3 linked regions of the Homo sapiens genome follow. The protein of the gene in region 2 purifies or fractionates together with the protein of the main gene of each other region. This does not show direct contact. Each region holds a gene or a part of one and is shown on either strand. Other genes may lie near its edges.

Region 1 (7,065 bases), on a different chromosome or scaffold from region 2:
GGCAGAAGGACATCAGCCTGGACACTGCAGCGGTCCTGCCCAACCAGGAGCCAGGACTGGACATCTCATGACAAGATGCCTTCAGTCCTGCTGTGGTTAGGCAGGCGGCAGAAATTAGTATGAGGAACCCAGGACAACAGGGCAGCCAAGTTGGATTCAGGGCTCTCTGAGGTAACAGGAGGGCCCACAGCCACAGTGACTGCCCGTGGGGCTGGTGAGAAGTTGGGGGCACAGTTGGGCCCGGAAGGCTGGAGGGGAACACACACTGGGCAGGCCTGCACTCTCTTTGGACACACAGCAGTAGGAGAACAGACCTCCTCTCGTCCCCAAGAGCAGGCTGGGCTCTATGTGGGGCCAGAGAAAAGGCCTCCCGGCCTGAGGCCAAGGGACACTTGGCCACTGACGAGAAGGGGACAGGGTCACTCACTTGAAGGCACCAGAGTAGCTGAAGTACGGTTCCTGGGAGGAGAAGGCACATTTGTTTTCCCCTGTCCCCGCACACAGGCGACACAGGTTGGGGAACTGTCCTTTATCTGCACCGGGAACACAGCTGGCTGAGAAGAACCTGGCCACAGCTGTTAAACACAGAGAAGTGGACCACAGAGTGTGAGCCAGCCCTGGTCACAGCAGGTTACACCTCCCATCCTGAGGTCTCCGTGGGCAAGGCCCCTTCCTCCACCCCTGCAGGAGAGACTCTGTCATGGGGCTGGGAGCTCGAGACATGCACCTCTGCCGAGAGCAGACTCAGCTGTGCCTCCCAAGGGCTGCTAGGGTAACGGATCCTGCCAGCAGGATGTTACAAGCTGGCCAGCCTCACCCCCACCTTGATTCATCCCACACTTTCACCTGCATGATCTGTGTGGCCTGTGCTTACAACTGGAATAGAGCCCCCTGCCTGAGGCCACTCACTATCCCCCAGCCATCTTACCTGCCTCAATGGGCTCAGGTGGACCCGTCCAATTCAAGAATGGACGAAGTGTCCCTATAGGGACATTCCATCCAGCGGTCCTGCGAAGGCCTGTGTGGCAGGACTTCAGACCTTGCAGTTCGTTCAGCTGAAAGCTGCCGCCCTTCTTCACCACAGCCACGGCATAATAGTGAGTTCGTGGCTCTGCAAAGGGGCAGACAGAATTGAAAGTTCTTAGCCTGGACAAGAGGGACAAAAACAACCCATCCTGAAAAGTCTCCGGTGGGAAGGGGGAATGCTGTGCTGCAGTTTCCTCACAGCTCACGTGTGTCCTCCTCTCGTGGGTCAGCGTCAGGAGGAACGGCCTTCATCTGGCCCAGAGCCCAGCGACTCCATTCCCTACATGTGTGATGTGACCCAGACTCCACCTCCACATGTTCCCCCAGTCTTAATCCACACAGCTCAGGGCACAGGCTGAGGCCACCGTGGCCTCTGGGTCCCCAGGCAGAACTCACGTCTTTCGGTCCCGTAGACTTCCGCCGCTACAGGTCGCAGTTTGTAGGGGGCCAGGCCTGCCTCGTATATGAAACCACCATCAAGGGTCACAGCATCGGCCCTGTTTTCCTGAAAGTAAAGAGGCCAGACTGGCTTCAGCAGAAAACTCACCCAAACCCAGCAAGTGGGACTTCAGGACCTCAAAAAGTCTCCATGGCTGGAAGGGTCGTCAAAGGGGTCCGCTTTCCATCCTGTCCCCTCACTTCCTATGAGAGATGGTGAGAGCCAAGGACCCCTGTTTTGGGACAGTGAGCACCAGCCCTCTAAGTCCTGAGACTGGCGCCTGCCCTCTTTCTCCTCTGCCTGCCTGTGTCACTCTCCCGATCACACCCCTCACAGTCATCTATATTTGAAGTCGTTTGTTCTAGATACTTTCTATTTTTGCTCTATATTCATTTCTTTTAAGTTCTGTTTTATTGGATAGAAAATATAGTTATTAAGCTATCCTAAAATTTTCATAAGAAACCATGTTCCTCCGCTTCAGCACATTGCTTCCCACATGATTACATATTTCTTTGGTTTGCAATGTGGGATAGTTTAGTGGTCCCCAACTTTTTTGCCACCAAGGACCAGTTTCAGGGAATGTAATTTTTCCACAGACAGATGGGGAATGGTTTTGGGATGAAACCGTTCCACCTCTGATCATCAGGCATTGGATTCTCATAGGGAGTGCAACCTAGATCCCTCGCATGCACAGTTCACACTAGGGTTCACACTCCTATGAGAATCTAATGCCGCCGCTGATCTGACAGGAGGTGGAGCTCAGGCAGTCATGCTCACTGGCCCTCTGCTCACCTCCTGGTCTGAGGTCTAGTTCCTAACAGGCCATCAACCGGTACCAGTCCGTGGCCAGGTGGTGGGGACCCCTGGGATACATCATATTTTGTGGACTGCTTATTCCTCTAAAACTGGATACATTTTCTAACTTCTGCAGAGCCTTTACTGATTTTGTAGACAGCATAATGTTTTCTCATAATGTGGGTGTTCTATCGTGTATTGAATAATTTCCCCCAATGTTTAGCATTTAAGTTTATTTCTAACTGTTTCCTGTGAAGACTGTATTTTCATGAATATCTTTGTCCTCAGTGTTTTTCCTTGTGACCACTTGTGTCCTTGGGTAGGCAGCTGAGGGTGGAATCCCCCAGATGAGGAGCACGTTTCCCCCTGTGACCCGGGCTGCCGTTGCCATTCTGCTTCCAGAAGACTTATAATACCAATTCAGAATGGCGCTGACCGTGAGGACCAGCTTCACTCTTGAATCACCAGCAGGGCAGGCTATCATTCTATTAGCTGTTATTACTATAGAAAATGTGAGTACTAACAAATCGCTCAGGTCTGATTAGTAAGGGGAACATCTCACAAGTATTTTTTATTAATTATGAATTCCCTCTTACTGGTAACTCTGTTCATATCATTTTTCTTCTATGATTCTACATTTTTTCCAATTTGGGTTATTCTTTTATTTATTTATTTTTTCGAGCGGAGTCACCCAGGCTGGAGTGCAGTGGTACCATCTCAGCTCACTGCAACCTCCACCTCCCGGGTTAAAGCGATTCTCTTGCCTCAGCCTCCTGAGTAGCTGGGACTACAGGCGTGTGCCACCATGCCTGGCTAATTTTTTTTTTTTTGTATGTTTAGTAGAGATGGGGTTTCACCATCTTAGCCAGGATGGTCTTGATCTCCTGACCTCGTGATCCACCTGCCTTGACCTCCCAAAGTGCTGGGATTACAGATGTGAGCCACCACGCCCGGCCTTGAGTTATTCTTTTATAGAGTGTAAATAGTAATCATGTGTCAGAGCTGGCGCATATTCATTCATTCCAGTCCTTTCTAATTTTTTTATTTAAATATTTTCTATGGGCTATGAATTACATTTTCTGTATTTTAGAATATCTGTTTGTTTCGTGATTTAGATCATCATTTAAGAGATTTCTATTTCCTCTACAGTTCTGCTAGTTAACCTGCCCCCTAGTTTTTCAATAATACAAGTTTTATTTTTAACCATTTAATCTATCTCAACTTTATTTGAATGAATGGTATGTAGTACTGATTTCAAACAGGGATCTTATTTTCCGAGATCAGACGAGATCAGACGCGTTCAGCGTGGTATGGCCTTGGACAGGATCTTATTTTAAAAGGCAGATTTTGTGGCTTCTTTCACATATATTCAGATTGAGTAGGTTAGAATAGAGCCTAGGAATCTGCATTTTAAACAAGCAAGAGATGCTGGTGCTGGTTTTTTGTTTTTGTTTTTTGTTTTTTGAGATGGAGTCTCGCTCTTGTCGCCCAGGCTGGAGTGCAATAGCATGATCTTGGCTCACTGCAACCTCCCCCTCCCGGGTTCAAGTGATTCTCCTGCCTCAGCCTTGTAAGTAGCTGGGAATACAGGCATGTGCCACCACACCCAGCTAATTTTTGTATTTTTAGTAGAGGCAGGGTTTCACCATGTTGGCCATCCTGGTTTTGAACTACTGACCTCAGGTGATCCTCCCACCTCGGCCTCCAAAGTGCTGAAATTACGGGCGTGAGCCACCGCGCCCAGCCACTGGTACTGTTTGTATGCAGGTAATAGTTGTAAAATAATAGCCTAAAACATTGATTAAACTAGATTTTTCCCTAAGTGCTATTCTAATAACTCCATTGTATTTATAAGATAATCCTATGAAGTTGCCTCGGGAACTTTTATGCAAATTATTCACTCTGCTGGAGTTGAGTACACATGATTATGGCACATGGCAGGTACACAGAATATATTTGTTGAATGAATGAGTAAAAATCATTTCAGTAGATCTTACATCTCAAAAAATAAAAGGAATCAGAAATCATATACAAGTCATGATACCCTTTTCTCTCTCTCTGAAAGTGTCTTGGACAAAAGTCTTTCTAACACCCAGCACCCTGGCAGGCCCTGCCCCAGCCATGTGATGTGGCAACGGTGACCAGGACAAGCTTCTTTCTCACAGGGTTTAGAGGTCATGACTCTTTTGGAGGATTTCCCTCTCTGAGTAACTTTGCTTTTTGCTGATCCTATGTATTCATCAAATACAACTGATTACATTTCATTTTGGAACAGTTGTTATTAATGAATAACAGTTGTTATTATAGTTTATGTGGAGGCTCCAGGTTCCTCACACATGGTCTCTTGACTTAAGCTCCTTCCTTTCTGCTCTGAAAATAGCACAGTTCCCTGTGAGAGAGGACGGCTCCCCACTTCGTTGCCCAACAGGTGAAGCAGAGGAAGTAAGGAGAGCTCGTGTTCTATCTTTTTCCATTTCTCTCTCCCTTCCATTCAGCTTGGTCCCAACCAACACCCGGCATTGACTCACCGCAATGGCCTGGATACACTGGATGGGGGAGTCTCTCTTTATGCAGCTGACAGGAGGGCCACGCACTTTTCTCATATTCCTTTGCCATTGGAAGCATTTTGTGGCCTCGGGTTGGGATACGGCGCACCACTGAACACTCCTCCTACGGCCAGCCAGACACAGTCCTGGGAGAGAGGGGCCAAGGAGTAAGGATTCAACCACTGACTGAGGGCGTGACCACCGCACCCTCTGATGGAGTTTTCCAGACTCCTCCCTCTCTCTCGGCTGCCCTCCTTCCCTCTCCATTTCATGGCTATGTCCAGCCATTCTCCACAAGTGGAGGCATCTTGCTGGACTAATAGGATCTCTGCATTGGCTAGAGGTCTGTGGTTCTCAATAAATTAAAGGAGAAAGTCCCTCTAGATTATTTTCATTCCTATGACTTTGACATGTTTCCTACCACTTAAAAAATGATGGTGATCCCCCAGATCAGTTATGGAATTCTTCTACCAGCTTTGCCCACTTTGAACCTGGAAGGTAGGCAGGAAAGGAGTCATTGCTCCTGTTTTACTGATGTGGAAATTGGCTCCTAAGGAGGCTGAGTGACTCGCCACTCAGCAGTGCAGAGCCCAGCTGAGAATCCACGTCTCTCTAGATTGTTTTGTGCATAAATCTCTTCCCAGGGAATGCCAAGAGAACAGGGGAAAATATACCTGAGTCGGTTGGTAGCTGAGGTAAATGGTAAGTCAGTGTCAATGGGGACAAATCAGTTGGTTGGTGTGCCTGAGCTACCACCATTCACTCTGCACAGAAAGACTGGTGCTCCTGTTGAGCCTGCTTTTTTTGCTCAAATACTGGTTCTTCTTTTGAGCCTGCTTTTGTTGCTCAAATCCATGTAATTAGGGAGGAAGATGCATTGAATTTACTCACCTGGTTGCCTGATAAAAGGCATCCACAAAAAACCTGCAATGAACATCATACTAAAATGGTGAAAGACTGACTGCTTTCCACCTAAGATCAGGAATGATGAGAGAGTGTCCACACTCAACTCTTCTATTCAACAGTACTAGAGATTCTAGTCACAGCAATAAGGCAAGAAAAGAAATGAGACACCCATATTGGAAAGAAAGAAGTAAAACTGACTTTACTTTCAGATAACATGATCTTCTATGTAGAAAATACTGAAGAATCTACAAAGTACTATTAGAATTAATAAACAAGTACAGCCAGGCCACAGGATACAAGATCAATATACAAAAATTGATCATATTTTTGCATACAGCACAGAACAATCTAAAAATGAAATTAAGAACATAATGCTAGATAGTATAACATCAAAAAGGATTTAGTACATGACGGGTAAATGATAAGAACAGACATTTTACCAAAGAAGATATATGAATGGACAATAAGCACATGAAAAGTGCTCAATATCATTAGTCAAAAATGCAAATTGAAAATGCAACGAAATATCATTTCACAGCCACTGAACAGGTTATAATAGCTAAAACAGACAATGACACATATCGATGAGGATGTGGAGAAGTGGAAACCCTCATACATTGCTGAGAATGTAAAATGACCAGCCACTTTGTAAAACAGGTTGGCAGCTTCTCAAAATGTGAAGCACAGAGTTCCAATAGGACCCAACAATTGCACTTCTAGGCATATAGCCAGAAGAAATATTATAAGAACCTATCATACATAAATGCTTGTGCATGAATATTCATAGCAGTGTTATTTAGAATAGTAGAAAACTGGAAACAACCTAAATGTCCAATAACTGGTGAATGTACATCCATTCAATGGAATATTACTCAGCAGTGAAAAGAACTACTGGCATGCCCCACAACATGAACGAGCCTCAGTTATGCTCAGTGAAGGAAGCCAGACACAAGAGACCACATGCTGTATGATTCCATTTGAATGAAATGTCCAGAAAAGGCAAATTTATGGAGACAAGAAAATAGATTAGTGGTTGTCTGATGCTGGGGTAGAAATGAGGATTAACTATAAACAGGCATGAGGGACCTTTACTGGGGGGGATAAAAGTGTTCTAAAACAGATTTATGGTGATAGTTGCACACTCGGTAAGGTTACTGAAACTCATTGAATTGTACGCAAATAGGTGATTTTTTATGATATGGAAAATGTACCTCAGTAAAGCTGTTACCAAAAACTAAAACAAAAAACAAACAAACAAAAAAACAAAATAAACACACAGTTGTAAAAGCCCTCTGCCCTTTGGATGTGCTATGGGGTAGAATGTTCAGCCTCTGCTGTCTCCTGTTTCTGAGC
Region 2 (3,246 bases):
TGAATACAGAACCTACAGAATGGGAGAAATTTTTTGCAATCTATCCATCTGACAAAGGTCTAATACCCAGAGTCTACAAGGAACCACCACGTGTCAGTTGATTGTTCTCAAAATGGTGGTGCTATCCCTCACAGTACTATCACCAGCTACTAGTCTGACTGTTGGGAAAACGTAAAGGGGATACTATTCAGCTGGAATTTGAGTGTGATCCTCTGGACATCAGTGTGGATGTTGATGTTGGAAAGGATCTGTGGACTCTGAGGAATATTGGTGTCATGCTGTTTAGAGAGGGTATGCTCTGACATGGCAGGGCTTTCTTGGGTCTATGTCTGAGGCGTCACATCAAGCAAACTGAGGACCCATAAAGGAAAACTGTAACCCTGGGAGATACTGTAAGGATAAACACTAATGCTCACTACTCTCTAGCTCTTGTTAAACACTCCTTCCTCTCTTTTTATGAGATGTTATGACGAGGCAACAAAAAGGGTGTTAGAATGAATTTTGGAATGCAGATAAAGATATTGCCCATAGAATCTTTTGTGAAGATTTATTCTAACGGGACTGTACTTGTATTTTTTATTTCCATGATGTTGGGGACAATCATAAAGTCAAAGATTCCACTAGTTGGATTGGGCTTTTTTTTTTTTACATTATTCCAGTAATTGCACAGAGGCTGCAACCCCTGGGAGGTAGGTGGGAAATGTCAGGGAGCTGCAATAGACAGAAAAAGGAGTGGGGTAATCTTAACTGTAACAATGGCAACTTTCAACAACACTAACTTGTTATTCTGCTTGAAAAATTATTTTTTAGAAATAGTCAAATATTTATGTTTGAGTTTTATTTTAAATGCTCCTTTTCTATAAAATCATCTAAATATTTAATAGATAATTTGGAATTTTTGACAGCATTCCAAATATTATGAAATTTTAAATATTTCTTCTAAACAATCACACAAATATATATATTTCCAAACCAAAACAGATATTCCCATGCTTGAAATGCTATTTCTAATTTCTAATTTATTCTTAAGGGCTAATTTGCAAAATGAAATTGTTTGGATGATTGGTTTGCAGTAAACATGGTGTACCAAATTGGTTTCTAAATTTAGAGAAAGGTTGAGTCTCCTCTTATAATAATCAAGAAATAATAGAAGTATTAATGATAATGAAGCTTCCATAATTAAAAAGTCAAATTCTGAAATAACAAGCAGAAATGAACATTAGCAGGTAGCAGCTACATAATTTATAATTCTCACAAAGTTATTTTGAGCTCTTTTTATAGGATAACATAACCTCCAACATGTAGTTTACTAAATTATAGTATAAGTACTATATGTGCCATAATTAAGTTCCATAATTTGGGGGAATTTAGTACTATTAAATATAACTTAAAGATACAGGAAATATAGTGCATAAAATTCTAAGAATCACAAAAGAAAGGCAAAGTTGTTTTAATAGATGCTATGATTTCTATGTCTGATATTTCAAACATTTTAGAAAGTAGTAATTATTATTATCCATATACATGTTTTCAAAGAAAAATGCTCTTTACATATAGAATTTGAGGATGAGCTCTATATTTTAAATACAGTAGACTCCATGTCCTTTCTTGGAGGTTTTTGAGGACTAATTTTTGGTAATATCTCTTTAGCATAAAGTGTTCTATGAAGTCCAGCTTCTCGAAGTGCTAACTCGAAGCGAAGTCTAGGGTCAGAAATTATCTGTAGAAATAAAAATACAATTTAAATAACAATTCATTGAACTAAAATAACTTTTAACATTTAGTTCCATGTTTTCCCAAACTAATTTGTTTTTACTGGACAGATGACTAGGTGACAGTAAACTGTGAATACAGTGACTATATTTTGGAAACATCTAAACCTTTTTGACATTATCACTTTTCAGTACATCAGTGGTTTCCCATGTAGGGTATATAGAACATAGTGTACTAGATTAGTCAAAATATAATGCGTTAAAATTATTAAAAGATGAAGTAAAAGAAGCTTACTTTCAGTGCTACTATTGATTTATCACTTATTGCTGGCTGGAATTATAAAATACAGATAATCATTGATTAAAATAAATCTAAGCCACAAAAAAAGCATCTTAATTTCTCCATCATCTGGCAATATGTAAATTAAGTTTAAACACATGGCCACCACTTGAAAAACAAAATCAATAGAACTTTTCTTCCAAGGCTGGATTTCTATTTCAAACAGAAGTAGAAAATGCCTCCATCGATCTGATTCTAAGTGGAAGTAGACATATGAGTAGTTCAACTTCTGTTTTCATTTATAGCTGATTGGATCTTATTCCTCTTCCCCTCCTCCTATGAATATTAAATGTCAACAGAGACTGTTTGAAATGATAAGAAGGTGGCCACATATGGATTTTACCTAATGAGGCATTTTACATGGATTTGAAGTCCCCCTAGAGGATGTGATAATAAGCTAGTAAAAGCAGCCCCTCCAGGAGCTCTTAGGCGAACTGGGGCAATAAAAATGTACACAGATAACTACAGATTATGGCAACATGTGGCAGATGCCCTAAAAGTAGTAAAACATGGGGGTGCATCTCCTGGTGGTGGCGGCATGCGGATGGTCTCAGGTGAAGATGAGCAATTGAACTACCCTTAAAGTCCAACTTAGTCTATAAAGCAGACTGGGGAGGAAGAGAGACCTAATGAGAAAGGAAGACACCTACAAACTCAGAGGTGAAATAGGCCAACTTGGGATAAGGGTGGTTTGAGCAGAGTACTGGTTACCATTGAGGAACACTGGAAACAGATGCTTCTCAGACTAGGACTTGAACTTAAAAGGCTTGCATGGCCATGCCGAGTCTAAGGAGCTACTAGGGTATGTTTGTTTCTAGTTTTTGCATAAAAATAATATAATCATTGTAGTTGCATAGGAAGATGGGTCTGATTGTAAGTTCAGAATAAATTAAGGTGGCAGGGAAAGAAGAAATGGAGGCCGAGAGAGTGGTTAGGAATTTACTACAATTGTCTAGACATAAAGTAATAAATGTCTGAACTTGGCTGGTAGCAAGGAAGAGATAATTGTCAGAAACACTATGAAAACAAGAATCAATAGCACTTGGCAGTTGATCAGATACAGGGCTTGGGGCAACGATGAGTATGAAGTCAAGAATAATACAGAGATTTGTGTCTGAGAAGCAATAAATATGAGCCTAAGACCCAGGTTTTTCCTCTTCTGTCTCAATGTCTTCTCCCTGGTCTGCTCTCATG
Region 3 (7,431 bases), on a different chromosome or scaffold from region 2:
AAAAAGGAAAACTATTCGGCTTCTTTCATACAGACAGAATGATACTGATATCAAAAACAGAAAGGAAAAGAAGTAGAGAAAAACTACAACACCCATTTCACTTTTGTTCATAGATGCAAAAAACCTACATAAAATTATAGCAATCAAATCTAGCAGTCTTTAAAGGAAAACAAGAAACCTGCCTTTGTAGTTCAGTATGTTAAAACATTAAAGGAGGGAAAAAGAACATACCAACAGCTGAATTAATTAGGGAAAAAATAAGTTTTGATACATTTAACACTCATTCAAATTAGGAATTAAGGGGAAGAATTTTAAACATAATAAAAAGAATCTACCAAAACCCTAGAGCAAACCTCAAATGTAGTGATTATTAAAAGTGGGCTTCTCAAAATCATAAACAAGGAAGCTCACCATCACTTTTTCTATTCCATATCACACGGGAAGTCCTAAACAGAGAAAAAGAGAGAATGTAGGAGAATTATCAAGGGACAAAATGATCAAAATTTGCATATAATTGTCTTCATCAAAAATCCAAGGGAATTCACAGAATGAATAAGAGAGTTCAGCAGGACTGAAGATCTGTGTGTATATAAACGCAGATGTAGCATCAACATCTAAAAATTCTACATTTATAACCAATTAGAAAATAGAAAAAATTCCACTTATTATATAGCAACTATTCAGTACCTTGAAGCAAATTATATACGCAAGAATTTTATGTAGTAAAATGATAAAACACTATTAAAGGTAAAAACCCATAAATGGAGAAGTATCATATTCGTGGAAAATTCAATAGCATAAATAAGTCAGTTCTCTACAAATTAATCTGTAAATCCAATGTAATTGCGATTTATGAGGGGGCTTGCCCTACCAGTTATTATGTTATCTTATTGTTTAGCTATCTGGTATTATAATACAGGAATGAAGCTTGAAAAATCTATCCACTTGAGCGATTAGCATCTTCCTTAGTCTATCCTTTCGGACAGTGATTATTTCCTCCAACAGAAGCAGAACTGCAAAAGGTTTTGGATTGAGGTCCCTGGGAAGTAGCATTCTAATGATCAATGCCAAGACAACAGGTGGCAAAACAGATACCATACTGTTATAATTTCATATTCTTGCTTACAGGGATGGCCAGACATTTTACTCTTCTACATGACACAGAAGTATTCTAGAAGATTCAGGTAGTGTAGGGAGTTACTCTGTTCATATGCTTCAGATGTGCACAACTCAGAGTACAGATAACAGAACAAGTAACAACTGGCCACCATATAATACTGTTTAGCTATCTCGTTTTATAAAGTAACTCGTGCTAGAATACAATAATAGTCCCTGTATATTTCTCATTTTAAGCAGGACTGTATCCCTAAGGATGCACCAGAACCAGGTGCAAAATACACTCTCAAATAACTGAACAAATAAACCTAATCCAGGTATTTAATACTATATGGTTAATGATAATGAAAATAACCGTTTTGATTGAGGCATAGCTGATAAAGAACTATATATAGAAAACAGATTAATTTGCTTAAGTACACTTTTGAACTGGGATAATCGGCCCATTTCATCAGAGAGAAGAAGATATGATTATCTTCCTACTTGCTGTGGTAAATTGGTCTGTGTATAGTTCACCTAAACACAGTACCTTTCAGTTTTAATTTCAAATATGCTTATAGATCATATGTAGATCATACGATAACTCTAGTTTAACCCTCTGATACAAACTGCCAACTATTTCCAAATTTTAATCTAGTTATTTTATATTAAAACGGAAGGGAGTTGTTAAAAGGCACTTTTTTATAAGGGTATGTATGATGGCAAATAAAACAGACATCGCCTCTGCCCTTGGAACTTACAGTCCAGTGGAGACAGACAAAAAGGAAATTCACAAATGAATTTATTGTAACAAATTATGCTAATTAGAAAGAAAAATCACTGAGACAATGAAAAAGACCAACAAGGGAGCCTACTTAGCATGGTCAAGGAAGGCCACTCACATTACAGGTTGAAGGCGTGTGTGACTGTCTCTTTCCTGAGATAGAAAGAAAACCTGGAAGAGTTTTTGGAACTAAAAGGCCAGTGAAGCTGGAGAGTTTTAGGGGGAAAAGGGGAAGAGGGAATAAGATCAAATAGAGGAGGCAGGAGGAGCCACATCGATCAGAGCTTTTGAAATGCAACAGGAAACTACTGTAGAATTTTAAGCAAAGGCATGGTAGATCAAATTAAAAGATTACACTGGCTGCTGTGTGAAAACTTGGGGATGAGGAGTAGAATGGGCCAAGAATGAAAGCACCGTTGTCAGGATAGTTGTAATTACACTGAGAACAGATAAGAAAAGGAATATTTGAACGAGAATGGTAATTCTGATTGCAGTGGGAAGCATCCTTTCAATTTAGAAACCAACCTAAAGGAAATTTACACAAGGTAAACTCTATGAACTTGATATTAAGCGAAATAACCTAAACTATCAAGTGAACTAACTATTCGTGGCAATTCCTGCTACCCAAATAACTTCCAACAGTATCTTGCTGTTTACTTGGGCTACGTTTTAAATTAAACAACATGCTTACTTGGGCTAAATTTTCGCCCACTTCAAATATCTTCTAATACGCAGGCGAACTACTCAGATCAAAGACAAAGAAAGGATAAACGGCAGGTGAACGAGATGACGAGAAGGGAATGCTGCAGAGTGAGTGGTCCCGAAGATCCAGCCAGTCTCCAGAAAAAAGTACTTGTAAGCAGCCTCATTCAGATGAAAGAAAGAAGGAAAAGTTCAACCGCCGAATTTCTTACTTATATTCTTCCTCCAAGGCGAGGAGGTCGGGTCCAGGTGTAGAGGGTTGCTGAACGGGTGGCGGGAACGGAGTCCCTGGAACGCTGCTTCTCTGTAAAAGAGCCACAGACTTTCAGACCCGAAGTTAAAGGAAGTTAGGCGTCCTAGTCGCCGGAACCCAGACGCTCCCCAGGAGCCTGGAGTTGAACTGACCGTGAGACACAGACTTCGCCCCGCCATCTTCGGCGACTGCGACGCGGTTACCGAGGCAACGACGCATCTTCCCGCGAGAGTTTCCACATCCCGGTTGCCTCCCGCCCGGGCGCCTACGCCTTCCCACTCTCAGGTTCTGTGCTGCGAGCGGCGCGAGCCTCTGGCAGCGGGCTCGGCCTTTGCTCGCAGCACTCGGCGCTGTCCCAGGAACCCAGGAAGGCTTCCTAACTGCAAATTCGACTTAGTTAGTGCAAATTCTCAACTTGTGGGGGTTGAAAGAGTTTCAGCCAAAACAGGCAGGTCCTTTGCCGCTACTCTATAGAAAGCAAGCTGGTGAGGCAATCCCTCCCTGTTGTGCTTTTCAAACCGTTAGTGGCTAATCCGACCTTCACCCCGTTTGCTTAAAGTGAGCTCTTCAGTGGAATTCAGAAGTTTTGATTTCTAATTTTTGTTTACAGCATGCATGGCTAAGACTCAGGCTCTCAAGTTAGTCAACCTAAATTATTATCCTGGCACTGCCACTTACCAGTTATATGGCCTTGGGCAAATCACTCTGTATATCGGCCACTTCATTTGTCAAATGGAAGTGAGAATAGTGCCCACTTCACAGTTATTATGAGAAGCAAATGAATTCGTGCTTAGGATCATGCCTGAAACACGTAAGCGGTTAACAATTTCAATTGTTTTGGAATAAAATTGACATCCAAAAATAAACCGTGATATGATGTATGGTCATCTGATCTTTAGAAAGGGTGCAAGACCATTCAATGGGAAAATAATTGTCTTCAACAGATGGGGAGACAACTGGATATCCAAATGCAATTAGACCCTTAACTTCACACCATATACAAAAATTAAAATGTATCAAAGACCTAAACTTAGGAGCTAAAACTCTAAAGCTCTTCAAAGAAACTGTTGGTGTAAATCTTTATGACCTTGAATTACAATTCTGAGAATCCTTGATGGATTCTTAGATATGACACCAAAAGCAGTAGCAAAAAAAAAAAAAAAGAAAAGAAAAAAGAGGCTGGGCACAGAGGCTCATGCCTGTAATCCAAGCACTTTGGGAGGCCAAGGCGGGTGGATCACCTGAGGTTGGGAGTTCAAGACCAGCCTGACCAATATGGAGAAACCCCGCCACTCCTAAAAAAAAAAAATTAGCCGGGTGTGGTGGCTCATGCCTGTAATCCCAGCTACTGGGGAGGCTGAAGCAGGAGAATCGCTTGAACCTGGGAGGCAGAGGTTGCGGTGAGCTGAGATTGCACCATTGCGCTCCAACCTGGTCAACAAGAGCGAAATTCCATCTCAAGAAAAAAACAAAAAAAAGGAAAAAAAAATAGATAAACTAGACATTATCAAAACTAAAAACCTTTAGTTTCAAAAGATACCATAAATAAAGTAACAAGACCACAGGAAGAGGGGAAATTCTTGCAAATTATATATCTGATAAATAACTTGTGTCTGGACTATATAAAGAAGTATTAAAATTCAAAAATAGGTAGGTGCAGTGGCTCATGCCTGTAATATGAGCACTTTGGAGGCTAAGTCAGGAGGATCACTTGAGCCCAGGAGTTCCAGACCAGCCAAGGCAACACAGCAAGACTCCATCTCTACAAAAAAAAAAAAAGGAAATAGATAAATAAAAATTAGCTGGGTCCAGTGGTACATGCCTGTAGTCCCAACTACTAGGAGACTGAGGTGGGAGGATCACTTGAGCCAGGGAGATCAAGGCTGCAAAGAGCCATGGTCACACCACTGCACTCTAGCCTGGGTCACAGAGTGAGACCCTGTCTCAAAAAAAAAAAGAAAAACAATTTAAAAAAATTTTTAAAAAAGACAACCCAAGTTAAAAATGGGCAAAGAAATAGGGATTTCTCCAAAGAACATATACAAGTAGGCAAAAAGCACATGAAAAGATGCTCAGTATTGTCCTCAGGGAAATGAAAATTAAAACCAAAATGAAATGCCACTTGACACCCACTAGAATGGCGATAATCAAAAGGATGGATAGCCAGGCGCGGTGGCTCACACCTGTAATCCCAGCACTTTGGGATGCTGAGGCGGGCAGATCACCAGAGGTCAAGAGTTTGAGACCAGCCTGGCCAACATGGTGAAATGCTGGGAGATAGAAGTTGCAGTGAGCCGAGATAGCACCACTGCACTCCAGCCTGGGTGACAGAGGGAGACTCCATCTCAAAAAAAAAAAAAAGGATGGACAATAACGTGTAGAGGAGGATGTAGAGAAACTTGAACCCTCATAAACTGTTAGTGGGAATGGGAAAATTGTGCAGCCACTGTGGAAAATGGTCTAGCAATTCCTCAATAGTTTATACACAGAGTTACCAAACAATCCAGCAACCACTGCTAGGTATACACCCAAGGAAAATGAAAACACACCCACATGAAAAGTATATGTACAAATGTTTATGTCAGGATTATTCATAACAGCCAAAATGCAAAACAAACCCATAATGGTCATAAACTGATTAGTAATTAAATAAAAAGTGGTATATTCATACAATGGAATATTATTCAGAAATGAGAAAGAATGAAGTACATGTATACCACAATATGGATGAACCTTGAATATATTATGCTAAGTGAAAGAAGCCATTCACAAAAGACCAAGTATTATCTAATTTCTTTCACAAAAGATCACATACTATAGGATTCTATTTCAATATGACTACATATTGTAGGAAATGTCCGCAATAGGCAAATCCATAGTGACAGAAGTAGATTAGTAGTTGTCTAGGCTTGGCAGATGATGGAGGGTTAGCTAAGGAGTTGCAGGGTTTGGGGGGCGCTAGTGAAAATATTCTAAAATCAATTGTGTTGATGGTGTACAACTCTGTGAATACACTAAAAGCCAATTAATAGTACACTTTATATGGGTAAATATAGATATGTGAAATAAATCACTCAAGCTGTTAAAACATCTTAAAAATAAACTATTTACAACATCGAGGGATAAAGAAAGGAACACTATGCTAGCACTAATCAAAAGGAAGCTGGAGTCGCTATATTAATTTCAAACAAAGATGACATCAGAACAAGGAAAATTATCAGGGACAAAGAGGAGCATTAATGATAGAGGTCAATTCTCCAAGGGGATAGAACAATCCTGGTGTAAATCCTCCTAACAGTAGTGTCAAAATGCATGAGGCAAAAACTGGTAGGACTTGCAAAGAGAAATAGACAAATCCATCATTATATTTGGAGACTTCAATACTACTCCTTCAGTAATTAACAGGTTAAGCAGGCAGAAAATCAGCAAGAGTTGCTCTGGACAGCACCATCAATTAGCTTGATCTAATTGACATTTATAGAATACTCATTTCAATAACAGCAGAATACACATTTTTCTCAAGGTCGCATGGAACATTCACCAAGCTAGAACACATTCTAGCCATAACACACTTTAATAAATTTAAAAGAATATAAATTATATAGTTTAGGGTAGCTGTAATAAAGCACCACCAAGTGAGTGGCTTAAAACAACAGAAATTTATTGTCTCATGGGTCTGGAGGCTAGAAGTCCAAAACCAGGCTAGAAGTATCACCAGGACTATGTTTTGCTTGAAACCTGCAGGGGAGACTCTTTCTTTGCCTCTTTCTAGCTTCTATGGTGGCTGTCACTTCTTGGCATTCCTTGGCTTGCAGCTGCATCACTACAACCTCTCTCTGCCTCTATAATCATGTAGCATTTCCCCTGTGTGTTTCTGCTTTTGCATGGCATTCCTGCTTTTCATGAAGACTCCAGTAATATCGGATGTGGGCCACCCTAATGACCTCATCCTAACGTGATTACATCTGTAAAGACCATATTCACAGGTACTGGGGGTTAGGACTTCAATATATGGTAGGGAGGGGGAGGTGGCACACTTTAACCTATAACCGAAATTATACAAACTATTTTATTGTGGTCCCAGAGCACAATAAAACTAAACTAAAAATCAATAACAAAACAGCTGGACACCCACAAAATATTTGCAAATTAAATTCATACTTCTAAATAATACATGGATCAAGTAAATATCTAGAGGAATTAAAAAAACATTTTGAACTAAATAAAATTTGAAATATAACTTATCAAAACCTGTGGAATGTTATGAAAGCAGTGCTTGGAGTGCTTAGCATTCAATGCATATATTAGAAAAGAAGAAAAATCTAAACTCTGAATGTCTACCTTCAAGGCAGCTAAAGGAAAAATATTAAACTTAAAGCAAAAGAAAAGTAACAATAAACATTAGAACATAAATCAATGGAACTGAAACAGGGAAACAATAGAGAAAATCACAGAAACCACAATCTAGTTAAAATCAATAAACTTATAGCTGTGCTAACCAAGAAAAAGAGAAGATCCAAGTAACCTGTTCTGTGTTATTTTCTGTGATGGTCAGTCAGGTGTGGCCATGAGAGGAAAACAACATTTATTATACTCA

What was found.
Region 1: the proteins of CCDC148 (region 2) and LTF purify together in Homo sapiens (affinity purification with mass spectrometry; 3 studies listed by BioGRID and IntAct, with this or other methods). This does not show direct contact.
Region 3: the proteins of CCDC148 (region 2) and TEX9 purify together in Homo sapiens (affinity purification with mass spectrometry; 3 studies listed by BioGRID and IntAct, with this or other methods). This does not show direct contact.

Annotation. Positions count from the first base shown.
Region 1 is NC_000003.12:46,454,868-46,461,932, forward strand, and holds part of LTF (lactotransferrin isoform 1 preproprotein), read right to left. Parts: intron 4,953-7,065; coding exon 4,789-4,952; intron 1,532-4,788; coding exon 1,423-1,531; intron 1,112-1,422; coding exon 929-1,111; intron 576-928; coding exon 428-575; intron 1-427. UniProt on the Homo sapiens protein: Transferrins are iron binding transport proteins which can bind two Fe(3+) ions in association with the binding of an anion, usually bicarbonate. Lactoferricin binds to the bacterial surface and is crucial for the bactericidal functions.
Region 2 is NC_000002.12:158,170,540-158,173,785, forward strand, and holds the end of CCDC148 (coiled-coil domain-containing protein 148), read right to left. Parts: intron 1,721-3,246; coding exon 1,574-1,720; 3' UTR 534-1,573; downstream 1-533.
Region 3 is NC_000015.10:56,361,033-56,368,463, reverse strand, and holds the start of TEX9 (testis-expressed protein 9), read right to left. Parts: upstream 3,039-7,431; 5' UTR 3,014-3,038; coding exon 2,987-3,013; intron 2,886-2,986; coding exon 2,794-2,885; exon of another isoform or gene 2,571-2,793; intron 457-2,570; exon of another isoform or gene 412-456; intron 1-411.